Linked DNA regions of Homo sapiens. The protein of the gene in region 4 purifies or fractionates together with the protein of the main gene of each other region. This does not show direct contact. Each region holds a gene or a part of one and is shown on either strand. Other genes may lie near its edges.

The links.
Region 1: the proteins of UCK2 (region 4) and ASB4 purify together in Homo sapiens (co-immunoprecipitation; one large-scale study listed by IntAct). This does not show direct contact.
Region 2: the proteins of UCK2 (region 4) and SERPIND1 purify together in Homo sapiens (co-immunoprecipitation; one large-scale study listed by IntAct). This does not show direct contact.
Region 3: the proteins of UCK2 (region 4) and UPP1 fractionate together in Homo sapiens (co-fractionation; one large-scale study listed by BioGRID). This does not show direct contact.
Region 5: the proteins of UCK2 (region 4) and IAH1 purify together in Homo sapiens (affinity purification with mass spectrometry; 2 studies listed by BioGRID and IntAct, with this or other methods). This does not show direct contact.
Region 6: the proteins of UCK2 (region 4) and SLC18A2 purify together in Homo sapiens (co-immunoprecipitation; one large-scale study listed by IntAct). This does not show direct contact.

What each region holds. Positions count from the first base shown.
Region 1 is NC_000007.14:95,523,668-95,527,483, forward strand, and holds part of ASB4 (ankyrin repeat and SOCS box protein 4), read left to right. Parts: intron 1-3,816.
Region 2 is NC_000022.11:20,777,113-20,780,612, forward strand, and holds part of SERPIND1 (heparin cofactor 2 precursor), read left to right. Parts: intron 1-2,184; 5' UTR 2,185-2,200; coding exon 2,201-3,089; intron 3,090-3,500. UniProt on the Homo sapiens protein: Thrombin inhibitor activated by the glycosaminoglycans, heparin or dermatan sulfate. In the presence of the latter, HC-II becomes the predominant thrombin inhibitor in place of antithrombin III (AT-III).
Region 3 is NC_000007.14:48,106,092-48,109,379, forward strand, and holds the end of UPP1 (uridine phosphorylase 1), read left to right. Parts: intron 1-781; coding exon 782-991; intron 992-1,269; coding exon 1,270-1,416; intron 1,417-2,126; coding exon 2,127-2,266; 3' UTR 2,267-2,645; downstream 2,646-3,288. UniProt on the Homo sapiens protein: Catalyzes the reversible phosphorylytic cleavage of uridine to uracil and ribose-1-phosphate which can then be utilized as carbon and energy sources or in the rescue of pyrimidine bases for nucleotide synthesis.
Region 4 is NC_000001.11:165,900,356-165,904,171, reverse strand, and holds part of UCK2 (uridine-cytidine kinase 2), read right to left. Parts: intron 991-3,816; coding exon 893-990; intron 1-892. UniProt on the Homo sapiens protein: Phosphorylates uridine and cytidine to uridine monophosphate and cytidine monophosphate. Does not phosphorylate deoxyribonucleosides or purine ribonucleosides. Can use ATP or GTP as a phosphate donor.
Region 5 is NC_000002.12:9,480,868-9,484,683, reverse strand, and holds part of IAH1 (isoamyl acetate-hydrolyzing esterase 1 homolog), read right to left. Parts: intron 3,399-3,816; coding exon 3,237-3,398; intron 253-3,236; coding exon 134-252; intron 1-133. UniProt on the Homo sapiens protein: Probable lipase.
Region 6 is NC_000010.11:117,264,967-117,268,782, reverse strand, and holds part of SLC18A2 (synaptic vesicular amine transporter), read right to left. Parts: intron 2,051-3,816; coding exon 1,972-2,050; intron 1,800-1,971; coding exon 1,748-1,799; intron 1,111-1,747; coding exon 1,047-1,110; intron 1-1,046. UniProt on the Homo sapiens protein: Electrogenic antiporter that exchanges one cationic monoamine with two intravesicular protons across the membrane of secretory and synaptic vesicles.

The DNA.
Region 1 (3,816 bases), on a different chromosome or scaffold from region 4:
TTTGGGGGAATTTATTCCAAGGAAATAATCCTAAAATTTACATACAAAATTATTAATTGTAGCATTAATTTTAAGATCAAAATTTTGGAAAAAATCAGCACAGTAGGGTAAACTTACTCTAAGGAGTATGTAGTTATTTTAAATTATGTTTAAAATGACTATATAATTACATGGAAATGCTTATAAGAGTAATATAAAAGCATTGTTGGTCAGTAAAAATATTAACGTGTCTAACTTCATTGGTAATTAGGGAAACCATTCAAATGCAATGAGATATCACTCTGCAACCAAGAAATTGGCTAAAATTAAATAGACGGAAAATACCAATGTTGATAAGGATGTAATACAATGAGAAACCCTCACCCATGGCTTATCGGAGTGTAAGCTGGTACAACTGCTTATTTGACAGTACTTAATGAAGTTGAAGATATGCATACCCAGTGACCCAGCAATTCCACTCATAGATGTAGAGCCCAGAGAAATCCCTGCACGTGAGCACCAGAGTACAAGAATGTGCAAGAATGCCCATGGCATCAGTGCTTGGGATAGCCTGACACGGGCAATGCCCATCTACAGTTGAATGGATAAATTGTGGATTACTCGTGCTAAAAGACAGACATAATAAAATGAACAAATGAGAACTAAACAGCACAAGACAGATTATTTTCACCAATACAATATTGAGTGAAAGAAGCAAGTCAAAAGAATTTGTGTTTATGATTCCATTTATTCAAAGTTCAAAAATTGGAAAATGGAAGGATTTTCTGGGGCTAAGAGTGTCTAATTTCTTGACCAAGGATGTGATTAGAAGGTGATGGCTTTACAATAATTAAAAAAAACTGTACATATATATTTTATATACTATGTAACGTATGTTATGTGTTATGGGTCGAATTGTGCGCCACCCCCCAAAACACACACACACAAAGATACGTTCAAGTTCCAACCTCCAATACCTCAGCACGTGAATTTATTTGGAAATAAGGTTGCTGCAGATGTAATTACTTAAGTTATGTTAAAATCATACTAGAGTAAGGTTGTTCCCTATTGCAGTATGACTGGTGTTCTTATAAGATGACCATGTGGAGACACAAATGAGACAGCCAAGTATAATCGGGTCCCCAGAGACCCTCTAACCAGCCTGTGCACTGGGAGAATGGGATGGAGCTATGGAAGTTCCTGCCGTTTGCAGTGGGGAGCAGCCTGGCCTCTCCTTTTCCTGGGTGGTAACCTGGGATCCAGTCTGTAAGATGGGGGCCTGTTAACAGGAACCCCTCTTACTTTGCTGAGAGTCTTTTTCCTTTTTGCCAAATAAATTCTGTAACCACTCACCCTTCAAAGTGTCTGCGTGCCTAAATTAACCTGGTCATGTGACAAGAACCCAGATTTTCCTGCAACACAGAGACACAGAGAAAATGCCATGTGAAGGTGAAGGCAGAGACTAGAGTGATAGGTCTACAAGCCAAGAACTTCCAGCCATCACCAGAAGGTAGGAGAGAGGTCTGAGGCAGATTCTCCTCCAAAGTCTCTGGAAGAAACCAACCCTAGACACTTTAATTTTGGACTTCCAGTCTCCAGAGGTGTGGGAGAATAAATTTCAGTTGTTTTAAGCTACCCAGTGTGTGGTATTTTGTTAGGGCAGCTCTTGGAAACTAATACATTGTATTTTCACATTAAAAATATATTTCAAAGTTCCCAGGAGTTGATGTTTCTGGTCTCTAATTTATTGAATAAATCACAAAATCTAAAATAAAAAAGTAGCCAAATAATTGTACTTTATATATTTCCTGGAAAAGTTACACTGGCGACACAATTCAAGTATAAAAATAAGGAACTCCTATTCAGAAAAGGAAACCATGTAGCATATCTAGTTGCACCAACAGGTCAAAGATCAATCGTAAATGTCCAAGTACATTAAAAAAGGATGTGGTTTGTTCCAAGTTGGCCTGTAAGAATTTCATCCTGACCCTTTGATTCTCTTCCTTACTGGAAATTCTCCAGCATCTGAAGTGACCCTGCACATGGCTTCTGGGAAGACATTCTCATTCGTTCCATTTCACTCCAGAGCAAAGACGAGCTGACCTGAAATAAGACCTGACCCAGAACTTCTCTAGGGCAGAATACTGATAAACACAGATGGCTTCATGAAAGACCATCTTTGGTTACAATTCTGCCTTCTACAAGTTAGGAATACAGTCTCAGAGTTTACAGAGCAATGTACTCTTGGGTACCTTCCTTGGGGACTGAGTTTGTATAGGATATTGAGCATGCTTGTAGGAGTTTTGGCTTTCTCAAATATGTTCCATATGATCAGGAGATGCCATAAATAAGGGCATAAAGGAACAATACATGGTAAACGGATTTTTTTTAAAGCTAACAAAATGCAATGTTATCTTTCTAGTACTTTCTGGTTTTCATATAGTAAAAGAGAGTAAACTACAGAAAAATTTTCCTTCAGAAAAGTAATATGAGGTGGAATAGAACAGTGATAAGGAATTTCGAAGCCAGTCTGTCTGTTTTCAAACCTTGGTTCAACAATGAGGAAGGGGTCCCCAGTGGGAGAGAGCCCCAGGTGGGGAAGAACAATGAACAGTTGTTCTGAGAAATGGGAAATCACAAGCAATGACTTCTTCCTGGCACAATGACCTTGTTCTGTGCGCACAATGACCTCCTTCAGCACAGCAGCTCCCCCCAGCACAACTCTATAAAACTTCGCTGCAGTTGCACCCTGCCTCTACACAGCCCCTTCTCTGCTGTGCTGCCGGTTGCAACTTTGCAACGCATTTTCATACATACTTTCTCTAATAAATCTGCCTTTCTTTACCTACAACTGTCTTGGTAAATTACTTTACCACCTGTGACACCGGCCCCAGCTAGTTGCACTCGTGACAACTAGCTGGTTGTACTTTTGGCCAATTATTAACCTCTCTGAGTACAAATTTCTTCATCCATAAAATTAGGATTAAAAACTGCACCCACTGCAAAGGATTACTTGGAAGGTTCAATGAGGCAATATATGAAAAGCATTTAGCCCAGAATGTTTCACATGGTTAAGTGCTTAATAAATACTAGTTACTAGCATAATAATAACAATAATAATAATAAGTCTGTACAGACTAATACTTGAAGTAGCTATAAAAAATTCCAGCAGCGCTGATATTAGAGTTGGCCCCCTAAGGGTCATTTGGTTCACCTCATTAAATTAGGCAGAGAAGGAAAATTTCAGCTTCTTGAGTTGACCACTCTCACATTTAACATTTCTAATTAGAAAAACAAAATTCACTTAAGTTTTCTAGTCTGTTAAATAAATGGGTTGGATTAAGTAATTCTAAGGAGCTTTCCAAGTACAAAAAATTCCTATTTCTAACATCCTTTGTCAACCATAAATAAAACATTTTGCAGTCTCTGAATCATTTTCTCTCTTTCAATGAATATTTCTACTATACCAGCTTCTGCCCCTTTTGATGAAAAATATAACCTTTAGGCTAGTTTGGTGACTAAAGTCGTGTGTGTGTGTGCATGTGTATGTGTGTGTGTGCATGCACAGGCATATGTGGTGGTGGTGGTGCTGCGTTCCAAGAAAGCCTCACAGACTTGGGCAGCCCTAATACTGCAATTTCAGTCAAAGGGATGGGAAGTTTCCATACCACTAAAGTTTACTTGCATCAAACTTTTAGGTTTATCTGCTATGAAAGAGAAGAAAAGTATTATTTTGTGGAATATTCTAAACAGTTGATTTTTAAAGAGTCAAGTGTTGTGACATAACATTTGTTTTTAATGATATTAGCAAATATCATTGTTATGTTGATTAAGAAG
Region 2 (3,500 bases), on a different chromosome or scaffold from region 4:
CGTGATCACGGCTCACTGCAGACTCAAGTGATCCTCCTACTTCAGCCTCTCAAGTAGATGGGACCACAGGCGTGTGCCATCACACCAGGCTAATTATTTTTCTTTTCTTTTTTTTTTTTTTGAGACGGAGTTTCGCTCTTTTTGCCCAGGCTGGAGTGCAATGGTGCGATCTTGGCTCACCACAACCTCTGCCTCCTGAATTCAAACGAATCTCCTGCCTCAGCCTCCTAAGTATCTGGGATTACAGGCATGCGCCACCACGCCGGCTAATTTTTTTGTATTTTTTGTAGAGACAGGGTTTCTCCATGTTGGCCAGGCTGGTCTCGAACTCCCGACCTCAGATGATCCGCCCACCTCGGCCTCCCAAAGTGCTGGGATTACTGACCTGAGCCACCGCACCCAGCCTATTTATTTAATTTTTCACAGAGATGAGGTCTTGCTATGTTGCCCACACTGGTCTTGAGCTCCTGGGCTCAAGTGATCTTCCTGCCTTGGTCTCCCAGTGTTGGGATTATAGGCGTAAGCCACAGCGCCTGGCCGGCAGTTCTTTCTGGGGTGATTAGAAGTTGGGACCATGTATTACCTGTCTGAGTCAGCATTATAAACACCTATGGTCACTGTCCTGGCAAAACATGGAATCATCAAAGCTCATCTAACCAGAGTGCAGTTAATAACCAGGAAGTAAGCAAGAGAAAGACAAAGGATTTGGCAGTCAAAACAGATTTGACAGGCCAAGTCAGATCCTCCTCTGAACGAGTCAGAGGAACAAATAAAGACAGGATTGCCATAATGCCTCTGTGCTAAAAGCTTATCTTGTTTACTTAAATAAAGGGAGTGCCCCTCAGGTCTTGAGTAAGAGCTTGCTGACATCACCCTCACACAGACTTTATCTCTTGTTTCTAACCCTGTGTTAGAAGCAGTAACACAGAAGATTTAGTTGCTCCTGACAGCAGTGGGAGCTATTGTCTAAGAGATACAAAGGAGAAAAAAGTATACCTGCAGCAAGTGATATCACCTCTGGGGCTGCCACCACATCACCTCACTACGCCCTGAGGGGGTCTCAGCACTAGACAAGTTCCAAATCTTTTGCAAATTAAACAACCCCAGGTCAGGCGTGGTGGCTTATGCCTGTAATCCCAGCACTTTGGGGGGCTGAGGTGGGTGGATCACCTGAGGTCAGGAGTTTGAGACCAGCCTGGCCAACAGAGCAAAACCCCATCTCTACTAAACAAAATACAAAAATTAACCAGGCGTAGTGGTGTGCACCTGTAGTCCCAGCTACTTGGGAGGCTGAGGCAAGAGAATTGCTTGAGTCCAGGAGGCCGAAGTTGCAGTAAGCCGAGATCGCGCCACTGCACTCCAGCCTGGGTGACAGAGTGAGACTCCATTTCAAAAAATAAAAACAACAAAAGCCAATTACAACAACAACAACAAAAAAACAACGAATTAAACAACCCCAAAGATTGCACAAATTTCAAGTATCTTTAGAATATGTTTTCAGAAAGCCTGGCCCATGGACATTTTTCAACAGCATCTCCATTGCAAAGGTGGAATGGTGTGAGTCACACAGGCATGGCTGAGTCCCACTAATGCACATCCCTTCTAGGTACTCTCCAATCACCAGCCCCAGGTGCCCACTCAAGCCCAGCTCTTAGTGAGGTTTCCCTGACTCTCTGGGCACTTCCACTCCTACCACACAGGGTAGAGCCACACCCCTTTCCGTACCCCCATGTGCTCTGGCAGCATTATTTTGAGAGCCTTCGCTTTACTGCACGTCTGTCCCATCTGTCCCCTGACTGGTCCATGAGCCCCTGGTGGGAACTTTGTCTCTGGTAACTAAACACTGTCTGGAGGTGGTGGACAAGGTGTCTGGAGAAAAACAAACTCCTCCCTGGGATGCCTGAGCTCCCAGGATTCTAGAAGGTTAGTTTTGCAAACCTTTAAAGAAGGGATTTTCATCAAGGGGCCCACAGATCCTTCATTGAGGTTTATGAGTCCCACATCAAAGGTTGGGTGTCTATCTACATCAGATTCTCTTAAAGTCCATGATCCTAAAACAGTTAAGAACTAATGCTGTGAGGGCCTCTTCCTGGGTCAAAGCCACAGGGAACCTGCCATGTGGATGCTGCAGCGGGGTGTGGATCAGCCAGGCCGCCTTTCACTGTGTTCTGTTTTCCCTCCCAGCTTTAGCTCCGCCAAAATGAAACACTCATTAAACGCACTTCTCATTTTCCTCATCATAACATCTGCGTGGGGTGGGAGCAAAGGCCCGCTGGATCAGCTAGAGAAAGGAGGGGAAACTGCTCAGTCTGCAGATCCCCAGTGGGAGCAGTTAAATAACAAAAACCTGAGCATGCCTCTTCTCCCTGCCGACTTCCACAAGGAAAACACCGTCACCAACGACTGGATTCCAGAGGGGGAGGAGGACGACGACTATCTGGACCTGGAGAAGATATTCAGTGAAGACGACGACTACATCGACATCGTCGACAGTCTGTCAGTTTCCCCGACAGACTCTGATGTGAGTGCTGGGAACATCCTCCAGCTTTTTCATGGCAAGAGCCGGATCCAGCGTCTTAACATCCTCAACGCCAAGTTCGCTTTCAACCTCTACCGAGTGCTGAAAGACCAGGTCAACACTTTCGATAACATCTTCATAGCACCCGTTGGCATTTCTACTGCGATGGGTATGATTTCCTTAGGTCTGAAGGGAGAGACCCATGAACAAGTGCACTCGATTTTGCATTTTAAAGACTTTGTTAATGCCAGCAGCAAGTATGAAATCACGACCATTCATAATCTCTTCCGTAAGCTGACTCATCGCCTCTTCAGGAGGAATTTTGGGTACACACTGCGGTCAGTCAATGACCTTTATATCCAGAAGCAGTTTCCAATCCTGCTTGACTTCAAAACTAAAGTAAGAGAGTATTACTTTGCTGAGGCCCAGATAGCTGACTTCTCAGACCCTGCCTTCATATCAAAAACCAACAACCACATCATGAAGCTCACCAAGGGCCTCATAAAAGATGCTCTGGAGAATATAGACCCTGCTACCCAGATGATGATTCTCAACTGCATCTACTTCAAAGGTAAGAGGCACCTTTACAGTTCTCACAGCAAACCCACAACATACTATTTTTGTATGTGGGTAGATTGAATGCCAAGAACTGTACTGTAGCTATAATTTATCCAGGAAAACTAGACACAAGATTGACTCTGGAACGGGGACAGGGAAGGCCAAGCTGAAGTGACAGTAGCATCTGACACTTACTGAGCCCTAACTCTGTGCTTTAACACAGCCTTGTGAGGTCATCACTGTTATTAGCATCCCCATTTTACAGAGGAAGCCACCAACACATGAAGTAAAAGGATGGGCTGGGCGCGGTGGCTCACGCCTGTAATCCCAGCACTTTGGGAGGCCGAGGCAGGCAGATCACTTGAGGTCAGGAGTTCGAGATCAGCCTGACCAACAGACCAACATGGTGAAAACCTGGCTCTAC
Region 3 (3,288 bases), on a different chromosome or scaffold from region 4:
AGGGTGTGGGACTTCATTATACTGTTCTAGTCTGCCTTTTGCTGGTTTACTTTTCAAGTATTTGCCTGAAATCTTAAATATTAACAAGGTATGAAACAGGGATCAATGAAACACATCATGGTATATGGTTCAGTGACAGACAACAGTGGGAAATCGCCGTGAATGGAAGCAAGAAATATGGGACAAAGTACTTGAAGGTTCCTGGCCATTTTTATTTTATTCTTTTTTTTTTCTTTCGAAATGGAGTTTGCTCTTTTTGCCCATGCTGGAGTGCAGTGGCGTGATCTTGGCTCACTGCAACCTCTGCCTCCTGGGTTCAAGTGATTCTCCCGCCTCAGTCTCCCAAGTAGCTGGGATTACAGACACCCGGCACAATGCCTGGCTAATTTTTGTATTTTTAGTAGAGATGGGGTCTCACCATGTTGGCCAGGCTGGTCTTGAACTCCTGACCTCAGGTGATCTGCTCGTCTTGGCCTCCCAAAGTGCTTGGGATTACAGGCGTGGGCCACTGCACCCAGCCCTCTACTTTGTTTTTTGTGCCTTTCTCTTCCATAGTGTCCATAATGATCATGCATTAATTACTTTCATAGCTTAAAAAAAAGTTGAATGGGAAAAATGGGTCACTGTGTATTTGAGAACAGTACTGGATGCTTCGTGTTTGGATGTGTGGGTGGATCTGCTTCTTTCTTCCATATGCTCTGCTGTGTGCTCCCTGGCTGCCCTGCTTTAATTTTATTTTGTTTTACACCCTGCATATCTTGATGTCTGCTTTTTTCCTCAGGTCTGGAGCCCGGCACTGTGGTCATAACAGAGCAGGCAGTGGATACCTGCTTCAAGGCAGAGTTTGAGCAGATTGTCCTGGGGAAGCGGGTCATCCGGAAAACGGACCTTAACAAGAAGCTGGTGCAGGAGCTGTTGCTGTGTTCTGCAGAGCTGAGCGAGTTCACCACAGTGGTGGGGAACACCATGTGCACCTTGGACTTCTATGAAGGTGAGGCAGCGGATACGAGGAGGCATCTTTCAGCCAGGGAACCCTGGTCCGTCCCCTGAGCCTGCCTTCTCGCTGTGGACTGGCGTTTCCACTTGCCAGGCTGCTGTCTCAGTTACACTTCGCCCAGAGTGGTTATAATGACCCGTTTGAGTGGTCATTATAGGCAGGACCTGGATGGGTCTTGCTTGTCCCTGTGTCCTTCTGGGCATCAGTGGCGCTGATGTGTTGTAGGAGCTTCTCACATGCATGTGGTTCTCATGTCTCCATGTGTGCCTCAGGGCAAGGCCGTCTGGATGGGGCTCTCTGCTCCTACACGGAGAAGGACAAGCAGGCGTATCTGGAGGCAGCCTATGCAGCCGGCGTCCGCAATATCGAGATGGAGTCCTCGGTGTTTGCCGCCATGTGCAGCGCCTGCGGCCTCCAAGGTAAGCGGCACTTGATGGGCCTCGGCGTCCCCTCCTCCCTTCACTTCTGCTCTCCTGGAGCCCCTCGCTGGGGCCCCTCCTCCTGGGGCACCCCGATACCCATTTCTGGTTTCTGTTTCCGCTGCCCCCAAGTCACTTTCTGACATATGTGTTGTCACCACAATGCTGTTCAATGTCTGACTGTCACACCCTGACAAAATGCAGGATTCTCAGTGACCTTGTGCAGGAAAAATGACAAAAAAGCTTTTGCTGCCCCATGAGGCTGCCACCAGGTCTATAAAAAACTCGGCTTTCAAAGCGCTTTGGCTTTCTGAATTGTGGTTCATCTACCCTCAAGGTACTAGCCACCCTTGAAGGCCAGCTCACAGCTCTGCAGAATTCCCTTATCACCTCGGCCAAAACGTGCCTTTCAAGGTGGTGCTTGCAGCCCTGAGCTGGTCCTGGAATGGTGAATTCCTTTTGGAAGCAGGCACGAGAATAAGGGAGGGACAGGGCAGGGTGGTGTCAGAGAGGGAGGAGTCTTCCGAGCCCCTGGACCAGCGCCTTTCCCTCCCGCACTCCATCCTCCGGCCCCGCCTGACTGCATGGGCAGCCTGGTTTCCTGAGGAGGCAGAGAGGCTGCTCCTCAGAGCTCGTGGGTTCTTCATCCCGTCCCTGTGAAATGTTAGACCCCCGGCACCTTGCCTTGATGTGGTCTTTGTCCTTTGCAGCGGCCGTGGTGTGTGTCACCCTCCTGAACCGCCTGGAAGGGGACCAGATCAGCAGCCCTCGCAATGTGCTCAGCGAGTACCAGCAGAGGCCGCAGCGGCTGGTGAGCTACTTCATCAAGAAGAAACTGAGCAAGGCCTGAGCGCTGCCCTGCACCTCCGCAGACCTGCTGTGATGACTTGCCATTAAAAGCATTGTCCAAAATCCCCTGTTGTGTGGACTTTGAGCACACTTTACACAAGAATCTAGAAAATCAGATCGCGATTAAGAGACAGAGAATCTTGGATTAACCGCATGGGAGATGTTCTTCCTTTTGAAGTTTCATTGGAGCATTTTCAATGATGTTAGCCTGATTTGGGGTTTCTTCAAGAACATTCTACCAAATTTTTGTACTATTTCTAGGGAAATTTTTCAGACTTTAAAATTCTAATGGTAGTCAGATTTCATGTCACTAAACAAGAAATCTGACAATAGTGCCAGGAAACTAATTTCCTGATACATTAAAAAAATTCCATGCACCACTTGCAATGAGAGATGACTGAAAACCAATGAAGCAGACAGCAGGGGTGTTTGAGAAATAATGCGTACCTAAACAGGCATATACACAGTTTCCAAATTATAGTCACACACATTCCCAAAACCATCCACACCAGCTTAATCACACGACAGTAATCCTCCCACCCATTGTCCACAATGCTAGTGTCTTGATCCAAGTACCTAGGGATGGGAAACGGGACACCTGGGCTCAAGACAGCTTGTCCTATTGTTTCTGTCCATGGCTTGTCAGCCTTGCATTCATTCCTGGCCTCACACTGACATTCCTAGACTCCGTGTCTCTTAGCTTCCTTCTCGGTTGCACCTTATAGTGGAGGGGAGAATCCAGGGTGGCCCCTCTGTCTGTCTCGGGTGAGTCTGGCAGCAGCTACTTGGGCAGGCCTAGGTCCCCAGCTCAGGGGCAGCTGGGTCTTGGGTCTTCACTGGCTTGTGGGTTGCCCAGGCTCCTGGCTGACTTCTCAACTCTCCCCACATCAGTGTGGCCACTTTCTGGTATTTATTGTTTCCTGTCCTTGAGATGGGCTTATTTCCTGGTGGGCTCTGAGGGACACTCCCATGCTCAGGGGCTCTGCTTAGCAGTTTGCTGTGTGACTTGGAGTGGCCAGGGAG
Region 4 (3,816 bases):
TTACTCTAAATCTTCAATGTCTTCAGAGATTCCAGCCTTCCCAGTGTATCTCAACCAAGACCAGGTTAAGTCCCAAGCTCTTCCTTCCCTTCCTCCCGGTCTCAGAGCTTAACTATAAATAATTCAGGAGCCAGACCATGGTTTGGCCAAGCTGGAGAAGACTCATTGACTCAGTAGGATTCTCCTGAGTTAAATACTTCTCCTTCTGCAGCCCCAGCACACCACACCTCTTGTCTCTGGTAGCCTTCCCTCAACATGCCCCTTCCTGTCTTTCCTGGGCTGAGGGCCAACTCTCTGTGTTCTTCCTTCTCTGAAAGCCACCTCACTAGAGAATTCCTAGCTGCCACAGGAAGGACTGGTGAGTCTGCAAGGGTGAAGGGAAGGAAGCTTATTCCAGTAAGGCATGACAGTCTCCAAATGGGAGCTAAAGACAAGCTCAAAGCAGGGCTCAGTGGTGATGGCAGGAGAGGCTCAGAGGGGAACATCTCGGGGCACAGCACCCAGTGCATCCATACGTCACCCATTGCAGACCCTTCAGAGATCCAAATGGCTGAGGACTCTCCTTGGATATGATACACCCTCAGTAAACGGTCTCACACCATGACCCCACCAAGCAAGAAACCTAGAACTAGCTGGGAATTAAATGACCTGCCTAAGGACTGGCAGGACCCTACAGGGCTACCCAAAGAAAGAACAGCAGGACAGGGCTCCTGGAGAACACAGAGGACACAAGGACCAAGGGCTGCCCTCTCTTAGGACTTCAGGACAGAGGATCACTCAGAGAGAGGAGTGAGATTCAGGCAGGGGAGCTCCACAAACTTGCACACCTTCGTTTATATCATCAAATTTTAAATTCTACATTCAACAAAAACAAACCAAGAACACAACTCACTGGCAAGCAGAATTCCTCAAAGGCAGGCTTGACGAACGTAATGTACTGAGATAAAATCTGCTCAAGATCCCTGCCTCTCTCGCTGATGTCCCTTAATACTGTAAGAGAAGGGAAAACAAGAATCAAAAAACGGTGTAGGAGCCAGCACACACCCGCCCTTCATGGGGTGGACCTAGCTCCCACAGGCTCCACAATTACTCTAGATGATTCTCAAGCTGGAATCCTGAGAGGCTTGACCAAGAGCAGATCAGCAGCGGCTTCGGAAAAGACAAGTTACATTCTGACATCTTACAATGGTCAAACTTGGCAATGACACAATGCTCTTTGAAACAAAAGGCTGTCCATGGAGGCCAACAGCCTTCTTGTTTCAAGCAACATTTGCTCCAAACAAAATTTCAGTGTGAATTTTTTAAAAAAGCAGGGCACTCCTGGAGAGCTCACTGTTAACAAGAAGCAATCTGGGCCCCGAGAGGGCTGGGCTGCACGCTGCCTCCTTGCATGCACTTACCTGCGTTCAGAAGTCCAGCGACCCACTGATCAGGCATCAGCTCACTGCTCCCAGCTCCCACCCATGCCCCCTCTGCAGCATGGAGCCCAGGCCAGGCTGAGGACCCAGCCATGGTTAACCATTTCCACCTACCTCATGCACAGAGGTTTGCCAAAAAAAAAAAAAAAAAAAAAAAAAAATCACTCAGTGAAAGATAAGAAAACCATGGCCTAGAGAATGGTGGGCTGGGGCTGAGATGAAGCCCAAATTGACAACAAACTCACCATCTTCTGTCTTCTACCTTCTTCCCCCGGTCAGTTTTATCCAGGGGCTTTTACCATTCTTTTTTTTTTTTCTTTAAAAAATTTTTTTTTCTTTTAATACAAGGTGTCTTGCTCTGTCACACAGGTTGTAGTGCAGTAGCACAGTCATAGCTCACTACAGCCTCAACCTCCTGGGCTTGAGCAAGTGATCCTCCCACCTCAACTTCCCAAGTAGCTGGGACTACAGGCACACACCACCTCAATGGACTAATTTTTTGTTTGTTTGTTTTTGAGACAGAGTCTCATCACTCTGTCACCCAGGCTGGAGTGCAGTGGCGCGATCTCAGCTCACTACAACCTCTGCCTCTGGGGTTCAAGCGATTCTCCTGCCTCAGCCTCCCGAGTAGCTGAGACTACAGGCACCTGCCACCACGCCTGGCTAATTTTTTGTATTTTTAGTAGAGATGGGGGTTTCACCGTGTTAGCCAGGATGGTCTCGATCTCCTGACTTCCTGATCCACCCGCCTCAGCCTCCCAAAGTGCTGGGAATTACAGGTGTGAGCCTTTTTTTTTTTTTTTTTTGGTAGACACGGGGTCTTGCTTTGTTGCCCAGGCTAGTCTTGAATTCTTGGGCTCAAGTGATCCTTCTGCCTCGGCCTCCCAAAGTGCTGGAATTATAGGCAGCCCATACACTCTTTATTAAATAGAGTCTTCTGTCAATAAATAGAAAGAAGACTGATCACCCTCATTCTGCCGCTGTACATGAGCCTTAGTTTCCCCATGAGTAGGGAGTTTGGAAGTAGATTCTCTTAATTAAAACTGCCTCTCTTTGCAGATGTCATTTTAAATGCTATCTTAATCTAACCTTATCATCTGAGCTGCTAAATCTTTCACCCCAAAAAGTTACCACATCCATCTACAATCATTTGCAGTGGCTCTTCAGCTCCTTCCCAACCATTTCTCAGTAAATAGACTCAAATGTTGGGTGAAACTCACTGTAAACGAACATGGGGTATATCTGTGACGGAACTTCTGAAAGCCATTTGTCTAAATAATTCTGTCTTTATACACACATGCACAGGTGCATGCACAGAGAGGCCAGGGAACGGGGAGGCTGTCATGGCTATGATCCAGGCTGACAGGAAATCTATAAGATGAGAAGGTGAGAAAACTGTCAGGAAATCCACATTTCCAGAAAGCTGGGCACTAATGATGCTGCCATTCGACTTTTGTAACAGCTCCTCGATTTACGAAGTGTTTTCTCCATGGGAGACCTGGTAATAAAACAGTTGGCTGATCGCTAATGTGTCAGGACTTGCCCACCCAGCCCAGCAGCAGCCTTCTCCAGCCAGGAAATGGTTTTCCCCACCCCTGCAACGCTGGACCTGGGCTCCTGCTGCCGACCTGCTGCTCTGGCAGATCTGCTGGGAGACTCGCTAAGAAGGAGCCCTAAGGAGCTGCCACGTGGCTCACCCCCCAGAAGTCCCCAGAGCTCCGGCACACATGGCTAACCAGAGTAGCACCGCCAAAACACACAGCCAGCGCGGCCTCCAATTCTTCACACGTCTCCAGATAAAGCCCAAAGAAAAAAGGAAACCAGATCAAAAGGGTATCAGAGCTAGGGAAAAAACAAACACACCCGTGCTTGGGCAGCTTTTACTTAAAGCCCTGCAAACGCCTGATGCTGGATTGTTTTGCAACACATGCTTTTCATACAATTGCTGAAGGCTTTAGCACTGGAGGAAGCTTTGTCCTTCTCCCAGCACACACACACACACACGTGCACACACACAAACACACATGCACACAAACGCACGCACGCACACACAGTGCACGTCCACACCCTGTCACGTAGTCCTCCTAACTGCCCTCAGCCTGGGCCTTCAGCCCCCTTCCTTCTGTAGATCTGGTGGCTTCAGCTGTTTTGTCACTGGAGAGAGGAAACTGGTCGTGCAGAAAGTAGGAGGAGGAGGTAAATCACAGTGAAGCTGCTCTGTAGCCCAAAAGCTGCTTCTTGTTCTACCTCTATGGGCTCTGGGGGGAAAACTGCCCTGGACCTGAATCCTAACCCCAATAACTCCTACCTCTGTGAACTTCGACAAGTGACTTTAACCTCTTTGAATCTTAAGTTCCTTAACTATAAAACAGGGACAATAATGGTACCTTCCTCATAC
Region 5 (3,816 bases), on a different chromosome or scaffold from region 4:
GTTTGTTTTCATTGGCTAAAGGGATGACTGTCTTAGCTAAGCAGGGCCTTTCTAGGGAAAGCTGCTGCACACACACCTGGTTTACTTCTGTGTGATCCTATTTACCCCGAGAGGACCGAGCAAGCCACCGTACCTGGCTGTCCTGCATCAGGGTCCACAGGTCAAGTACGTCAGTCCCACAGTCTTGGGCCACTTGTAAACACGCATTGGCATATTCACCAACAACAGAGTTCAGGCGATTTAGTTTGCAACCTATTGAAGAGAAGAAATAGAGGTGGCAGTTGGTAAACCCAAGTGCTGGCCCTTGTGTAAGTTCTGCTCCACTCATCTAGACAGTTTCAAAATGCCATTAAATATTGACCCCACTTGGGCCAGCCCCGGGGTTTAGGGTATATGTTGATGAGCCTTGCAGGTTACTGGTGTGCTGCTCTACCCAGCAGAGGACAAGGTGCAGTGGGAAGAAGGAGCCTTCAGTGGTAACCGGAATCTTCTGAGGCGCCAGGGAGGATGTTCTAGAGGACACCTTGAACAGAGGCAGAGAGGCAGGAAAGGCCCAGGAGGGCTGGGCTGCTTGGAGAGTGCCGGCTGCAGGAGCTGGGCTGGGGGCTGGTAAGGGCTGCACTAGTAGGAAATGCCAGGCCATGGAAGCTGAACGCTGCGCTGACACCGCTGGCTTCTTACATGTAACAGCTGGACCGCAACACAGCAAAATCATTTGTCGGCTTTAGACAAAGAGACCTTCGTTTTGATGCCTACAATTTTCACTAAATAGCGGTGTGCCTGAACAGCTTAACCGTCCTGAAGCTTTCTGCATTCTTATGATGACAGTGCCTACCTAGTTGCAGGAATATTGGCAGGATTAAGAGACTAAACACCAGCAAAGCAGCTAGCACAGAACGATTGAGTGTATCTAACACAAGTGCAGGCTGCCTCATCCTCCCAGGGAGCTGCACCAGGGAAGGCTGGAGTGCAGTATCTGGGGATTGTGCTAGGTTGGTTTGGAAGGTGGGGCTGGGGCTAGGGGAGAAGGCTCAGGAGGCTGCAAACAGGACAGTGAGGGCTGGCGAGAGGCGGACTACAGAATGGTATTAAAGAGAAAGCATGAGGATATGGGCAACTGGATGCGGGCCACAGGAGGACCTATGCTGGCCCAGGCTCTACATCACAGCGAAGAAACTATTCACCAGCTTTGATTCATACTTGGGATCAATTGTTTATAAAATTCACCTAGATTATAACTAGCTACCCCATCCCTACAAAAAAATTTAAAAAATTAGCTGAGCATGGTTGCACATGCCTGTGGTTCCAGCTACTTGGGAGGCTGAGGCAAGAAGATCACCTGAGCCCAGAGGTGGAGGCTGCAGTGAGCTATGAGTAATCCACTGCCCTACACAGCCTGGGTGACACAGCAAGACCATCTCAAAAAATAACCTGCTGAATTTCTAGGGGACCAGTTATTGAGATGTGACCCCTCCTCTACCTGCTTTGCCCATCACTGACCTTTTAAAAAGTCTGCATTGGGCTACATTCAAGGCTAGAAAGGGGAAATGAAATTAAACATTCAGAATTTCATATATATTATTTTCCTGGGAAACAGTAGACAAAAAGAAGTCTAAACAGCTTCTGTGGACCATGCTATGTAACATTTTTCCCCTTTTGTTAAAGCCAAGATGACACTGCCCCCCAAAGCAGTTAGGGCTGCAGGCCCAGAAGCAAGCTGGGGCTCTGAAGTTGTCTCCAGGGGAGCTTTGTGGGCCTTAAACACCTCCCCTTCCCTGCAGAACACTCTGGTGTCTCATGCACAGCAATAGGGCCCCTCTGCCCTGATGTGATGCCCAGAACCTACTGTCACCACGTCCCGCAGGCTGGGGTTTCTCCCCGTTTGTCTGTGCCTCCGGTGTGTGGCACCCCTTGGCATATGCTGTTTGTGACTTGAGAACGCATTGGATCCTTCTCTAAGGATGACAGGCCCTTTGAGAGCAAGGGACATAGCTACAACCCCACTCAACAGTAAACTCATACAACAGTAAGGACTTGAGCTGTGAAGTCACACTTGCTGGATTTGATTCCTGGTTGTGTTGCTGGCTGTGTGATCTTGGGCCGGTTACTTAGCCTCTCTAAGACTCCATTTCTCCACTGGTAAAGTAGGGACAATAACAGCCTTCCATGAAGTTGTGGTATGTGTGCTGTGGTGTGTGTAAGAAACATCTGGAGTGCTGAAAATGGGTCCAGAAATCTACCTAAAAATCCCAGTTAACTCAGAGTCAGACCACACTTTGAGAAATAGCTGTTCTGTGTTGCAAAGCCAGTCATTTGTCCTAGAATGTTGAGTTCTGGGCAGCTTAGAAAACTTCCAGTCCAGGAACGGTGGCTCACGCCTGTAATCCCAGCACTTTGGGAGGCTGAGTCGGGCAGATTACCTGAGGTCAGGAGTTCGAGACCAGCCTGGCCAACATGGTGAAACCCGTCTCTACTAAAAATGCAAAAATTAGCCGGGCGTGGTGGTGCACACCCATAATCCCAGCTACTCAGGAGGCTGAGGCAGAATTGCTTGAGCCCAGGAGGCAAAGGTTGCAGTGAGCCGAGATCGTGCCACTGCACTCCAGCCTGGCTGACAGAGCCAGACTCTATCTCCAAAAAAAAAAAAAAAAGAGAACTTCCATAATGCACATTTTCAACATTAACATACAGCTGACCCTTGAACAACACAGGTTTGAACCGTGAAGGTCCACTTATGTGCAGAGGTTTTTCAGTCAAAGGTGGATTGAAAACACAGCACTTGAGGGATGTGAAACCCAAGTATATGGAGTGCTGGCGACTCCTATCTGATCATTCCTACCCCCAGCTTCTGTGGACCAGTAAAAAGCCCCAGGTGTGGACTTCCAAGTCAAGGCACATCAGCATCAGCCCCCGCAGGCCGAGCACCACAGCTCTACACAGATCTCAGTGGCCTTCATGTGCACCCTGGAGTCTGGTAACTGTAAAGGTCAGCAGATGCCAGGCCCGCGGTTCCCTCCTGACTATCCAAAGCCAGAATCCCTTTTCTAGGTCAAAAAAGGTCTCAGGTATAACATAATGGAAGCTATAATTTAATAATTTTGGATTGAAAACAGACTGAAATGGACATACCGAGCCCCTAAGAAACAGAAGCCCCAGGCAGGAAACCACTGTCCTATCAGAGTTCCTCCCTCAGCATTCCTATCCAGATTTGCCGAGATTGGCTGTGGTTTGTTTACCTTGTATGATGCACTGTTCTTCCCAGGCTGTTTCACAAAGTGGGGTCGGCGTGATGAGAATGACTCGATTCTCAGGGATGTCCACGGACTTCAGGTACTGCACCATGCTCTTTAGGTTCGCAGCGTACTCCTCCAGGGGAATGTGCTGCTTGGGATTCTCATCTGCTCAAGAGAAACATGAGTCCTCACCAGATGCATATTTATTATAAGTGACAATTCAGGTGAACACACTTCTGCAAATGCCTGTTATTCATGATGTCACTGGGGGGATTGTTTAACACCAAGGACACAAAGAGAAGGTTTTCTCCTTATGAATTAAAATGTATAGTTCTTCATAAAACAAGACTTCAAAGGCTCTAACTAGGGGCACCGTAAGTACTCTTGTCTTTTCGTCACTAGTATCCAGATGGTTATTACATCAATTAGGTTGAATTTGTAAAGAAATTAAAGAGCCCACCCTGTTGGGTGAGACGGCCTAGGTTCAAATCCTGGCTTTGTCACTCCTCGCCACAGAACCGCAGATAAATACTTAGACTTTCTGTACCTCATTGGGAAAATGAAGATAATAAGGTCTCCCTCC
Region 6 (3,816 bases), on a different chromosome or scaffold from region 4:
TCTCTCGGACTCCTTGGAGTTCTGGGGCGTTCTGGTCCCCCCTATTATTCTCCACCTTGGAAACACCCATAGTCTAAGCGTGTGGCCCAGGTGTGACTGGCAGGAGGTGGGTCAGGCATGCAGGTGTGCTGAGTGGTGAGGGACAAGTGAACCAGAAAACAGCAAAGCAGGGAAGCACCAAAAGGATGCAGGCCAGGGGCCGTACAGTTAGCAACCTGCAACTCTGCCAGACCTGCAGAATGGCAAGGGGAGCCGCCAGAGGACTAGCACCCTCCCTAAAAAGATGGGCCAACCAGACAGTGGAGGACAAGGGGAGGCAAGGCAGAGGACAGGCAAACGGTCACCTGAGAAGGACCTAGAGTACCATACTGAGTTCTACCCCAGCCTCAGCAGCCTTCTACCATCTGTCCTCAGTGAAAGCCATGCTGTGCCACTGTACCACTCAAAGGTTGCGTTCCTGCTTCTACAGGGGTGGACTGAGCACTTATTTTTATCATGATCAATTGGTATATTATAAATAAGAGACAAAAGTATACCATTCACTCAAAATAGTGACAGATTTTTCCTAACATATTATCATTCTTAACATTACAAAAGCCCATCTCCTTGCCCATGGGAATTCCTGCAGCACAGGCGGTCATCAACACATTAGTCTGCTTTGTCTGTACTAAAACCTCTTCAAAATACATATGTGAAGCCTTTGCCCCCAGCCTCATGAGAAGACCTGCTCATAGGGAGGAGTCCACAAAAATGAGCTCTGTGCAAGGGATTCCTTTGTTTGCCCAGCCCCAGCAGTGGAGCATCAGTTTCCTTCTGTAAATATCAGCTTTTAAAAAATACTGGTTTTCAGGAAATAAATGACTAGTGCATAGAAGCAGGTGTCTTTACACGGAGAATCGACAGGCTGTAATTTAGCTAAGCTGCCTGCAGCCTCCTTCTAAGATTCTGGAAATTTAGGTTGAGGAACTACAGTCTACCAGAGGAAGAAGAACCCTTCCTAGTGGAAAAGCGGTTTTAAATGTAGGCACAAGGTTCGTGTGACTTACCAATTGCAAAACCAACTCCAAAGTTCGGAGCTATGAGTCCATAAATGTTTTTTGCAAATGGAATCTGTAAGAGGAAATAAACATTATGCTAAAATAACAAGAGATCCAACTCTAAATCATCTCGGAAAGTCTTGAACTTGTGTTTTCTCTGAGCGTGGTATGCCTGTTCCCTTCTGAAGAAAACAGGAGGAAGAAGGGTGGGGTTTGTGAAGAACCGGACCCTCCAAATCTTTAAAAGTCAAAGCTTGAAACGAGTTTTATGACCACCATGAAAAACTTGTCACCGGCATATGTGAAAGATCAGCCTAGTCCACCCTCAAGTTTTGACAAGAACAAGTAGGCCTCATGAGGGATGGATATTGGCCATTGGTAGAAGAGATTTTATTCTAGAAAAACATCTTGCTATTGTTTCAGGTTGGTTGTCCTGAAGTGTTTAAGACACTGTCAAGCTTAAGATGATGCAGGGGAAAAGTTAAACTGTGAAATAAAACATTTTAAATAATTTCTGACATAAAATGAAAATACACTCCTTGGAAAGTCTTGTCCAAACATTTTTAAGATGATAAAAAATTAGAATAAAATGAAAGCTGTAATAAAACATCAACAAACTCAAACGTAAAATGTTTCTTGGTGATTCTTGCCCAAAGCGCAAGTTTTATTCACAGATTGTTCCCACTTGTCAAATGCCATCTTTTACTCACACATAAAATGCTGACTCCAACAATTATCATTCCCAGAAGAGCACAAAGCCACCTACCAAAAGAAAAAGCACCATCAAGAAATGATCATTTGATTTTTTTCTAGTCCAAATTTTCAATGAAAATCAAAACAATTACTTGTAACAGCAAAGGCAGAAACAACTTAGAATTTTTTGAAAGAACTACATTATTGTAACAGAATGAGTGTTGTTTTCATATCATCTTACCTCCCCATTTTGTGTGCAAGTATCCCAAAAATATTGGTTCCAATGAGATAAGAGATACTAGCTGGCAAGAAGGCAACGCCTGTAAATTTATGAAAAGGAGACCTTATCAGTGCTGATATCAGTCATATGTTAGAAAAAGTAATAACTGTAGACACCACAATGTTGATGAGAGCAGATAAAACGAAGCCCCGGGGCCCACACCCCAGCAGCTAATATCCGGCGCCTGCCGGATCCGGTCTGGACCCACGTGGCTTATCCTCCACACAAAGCTGCTGAGACACTCCAGAAATGAAAGTCCTTTCTCTATCAACTGCTTCATCTTGCCTCCATCTCTGGCTGGTGGTGGGCTTCACACGTGGGCCAATACAAACAGCTCCTGCCTGGGAGCTCAGCACCTGCAATCTTATGTGTGATTTCATCCGACAGAAGTAAGACGCAGTCATTGAAAGAATTAGGGAACCGTGAGATAAACAAAAAGAAAAATGTTAAAATTACCCCAAACCCCATCCATTACTCAGATAATCACCACAGTTATTTTCTCCTGTAAGTTTATTTACATATATAAATATATTTATGTGTGTTTTGATTTACAAAAAAAAGGGATTATACTCTATCCTGCTTGTTTCAGTTAGCTTTATGAACATTTTTCTATGTCAGAAACATAAATGTCTGCCTGGTCATTTTTTGTTGTCAAGTCAGATTTTTTTTTTTTTTTTTTTTTTGAGATGGAGTCTCGCTCTGTCACCCAGGCTGGAGTGCAGCGGCACGATCTTGGCTCACTGCAACCTCTGCCTCCCAGGTTCAAGTGATTCTCTTGCCTCAGCCTCCCAAGTAGCTGAGACGACAGGCATGCGCCACCACGCCTAGTTAATTTTTGTATTTTTAGTAGAGACTGAGTTTCAACATGTTGGCCAGGCTGGGCTCAAACTCCTGACCTCAGGTGATCCGCCTGCCTCAGCCTCCCAAAGTGCTGGGATTACAGGCGTGAGCCACCACGTCCGGCCTCCTATCCAAGTTTTATTGCTGTCCCCATAGAGGACACCTGCATCCCCCAGGTTCTGATGTGCCCAGGGTGATTCCCTGCTGGTGGTGGCAGCAGTGGCCTTGAACCTGTCCTCCGCATTGAACAGAAAGGCCTAACCATTATCAGACCCAGCTTGGCTACAGGGGAATTGTCCACATCAGCTGTGTCTGGTCCTCATCCATCCAAGCTGTGTGTGGTCCTCAGAACCACAGGACAATCTCTTTATGAGTGACTGCTTTTCAAACTCCTAGTGATTTTAGTATTTTTTCCTTGAAATCAGATATACCAGACTTGATTCCAAGCCTTGCCCACACATAGTAAAAGTTACTTTGTTCTCAATCAGAGGACTGCATAAGTGAGACATGCAGGTAGATATCAGATGACCGAGTGCCTGCTACACTCAAAATGCATGGGGCCTGGAGGTCCTTCTCATCCCAGCAGCTGGCCACACACTCACGGGCAAGTGTGATCTTGTCTCTTTAGGATAAAGCACGAACGTCTACCATCAAACCCAGAAACAGGCTGAGTCTTCCAACACAGCAGGGACTTCCAAATAAATGGCTCCATGAGCTAAATCCAAAACCAGATCATTCTAGACATGGGAGTTCTGGGAAACACTAATAAAGAGCAATCTCATTTCATTTTCCAGAGAATTATTTCTGTCATGCTTAGCAATATGTGGTGGTCAAATAATTGTTCAGTGTAATCTGATTGAGCAAACATTTACTGACAGCCACGTGCCCAGCACAGCAGTGGCCTGCAGCAAAGACAATGACAACGTGATTCTTGTCCTGACGCAAGTGTTTTGAAGGAAAGGAGCA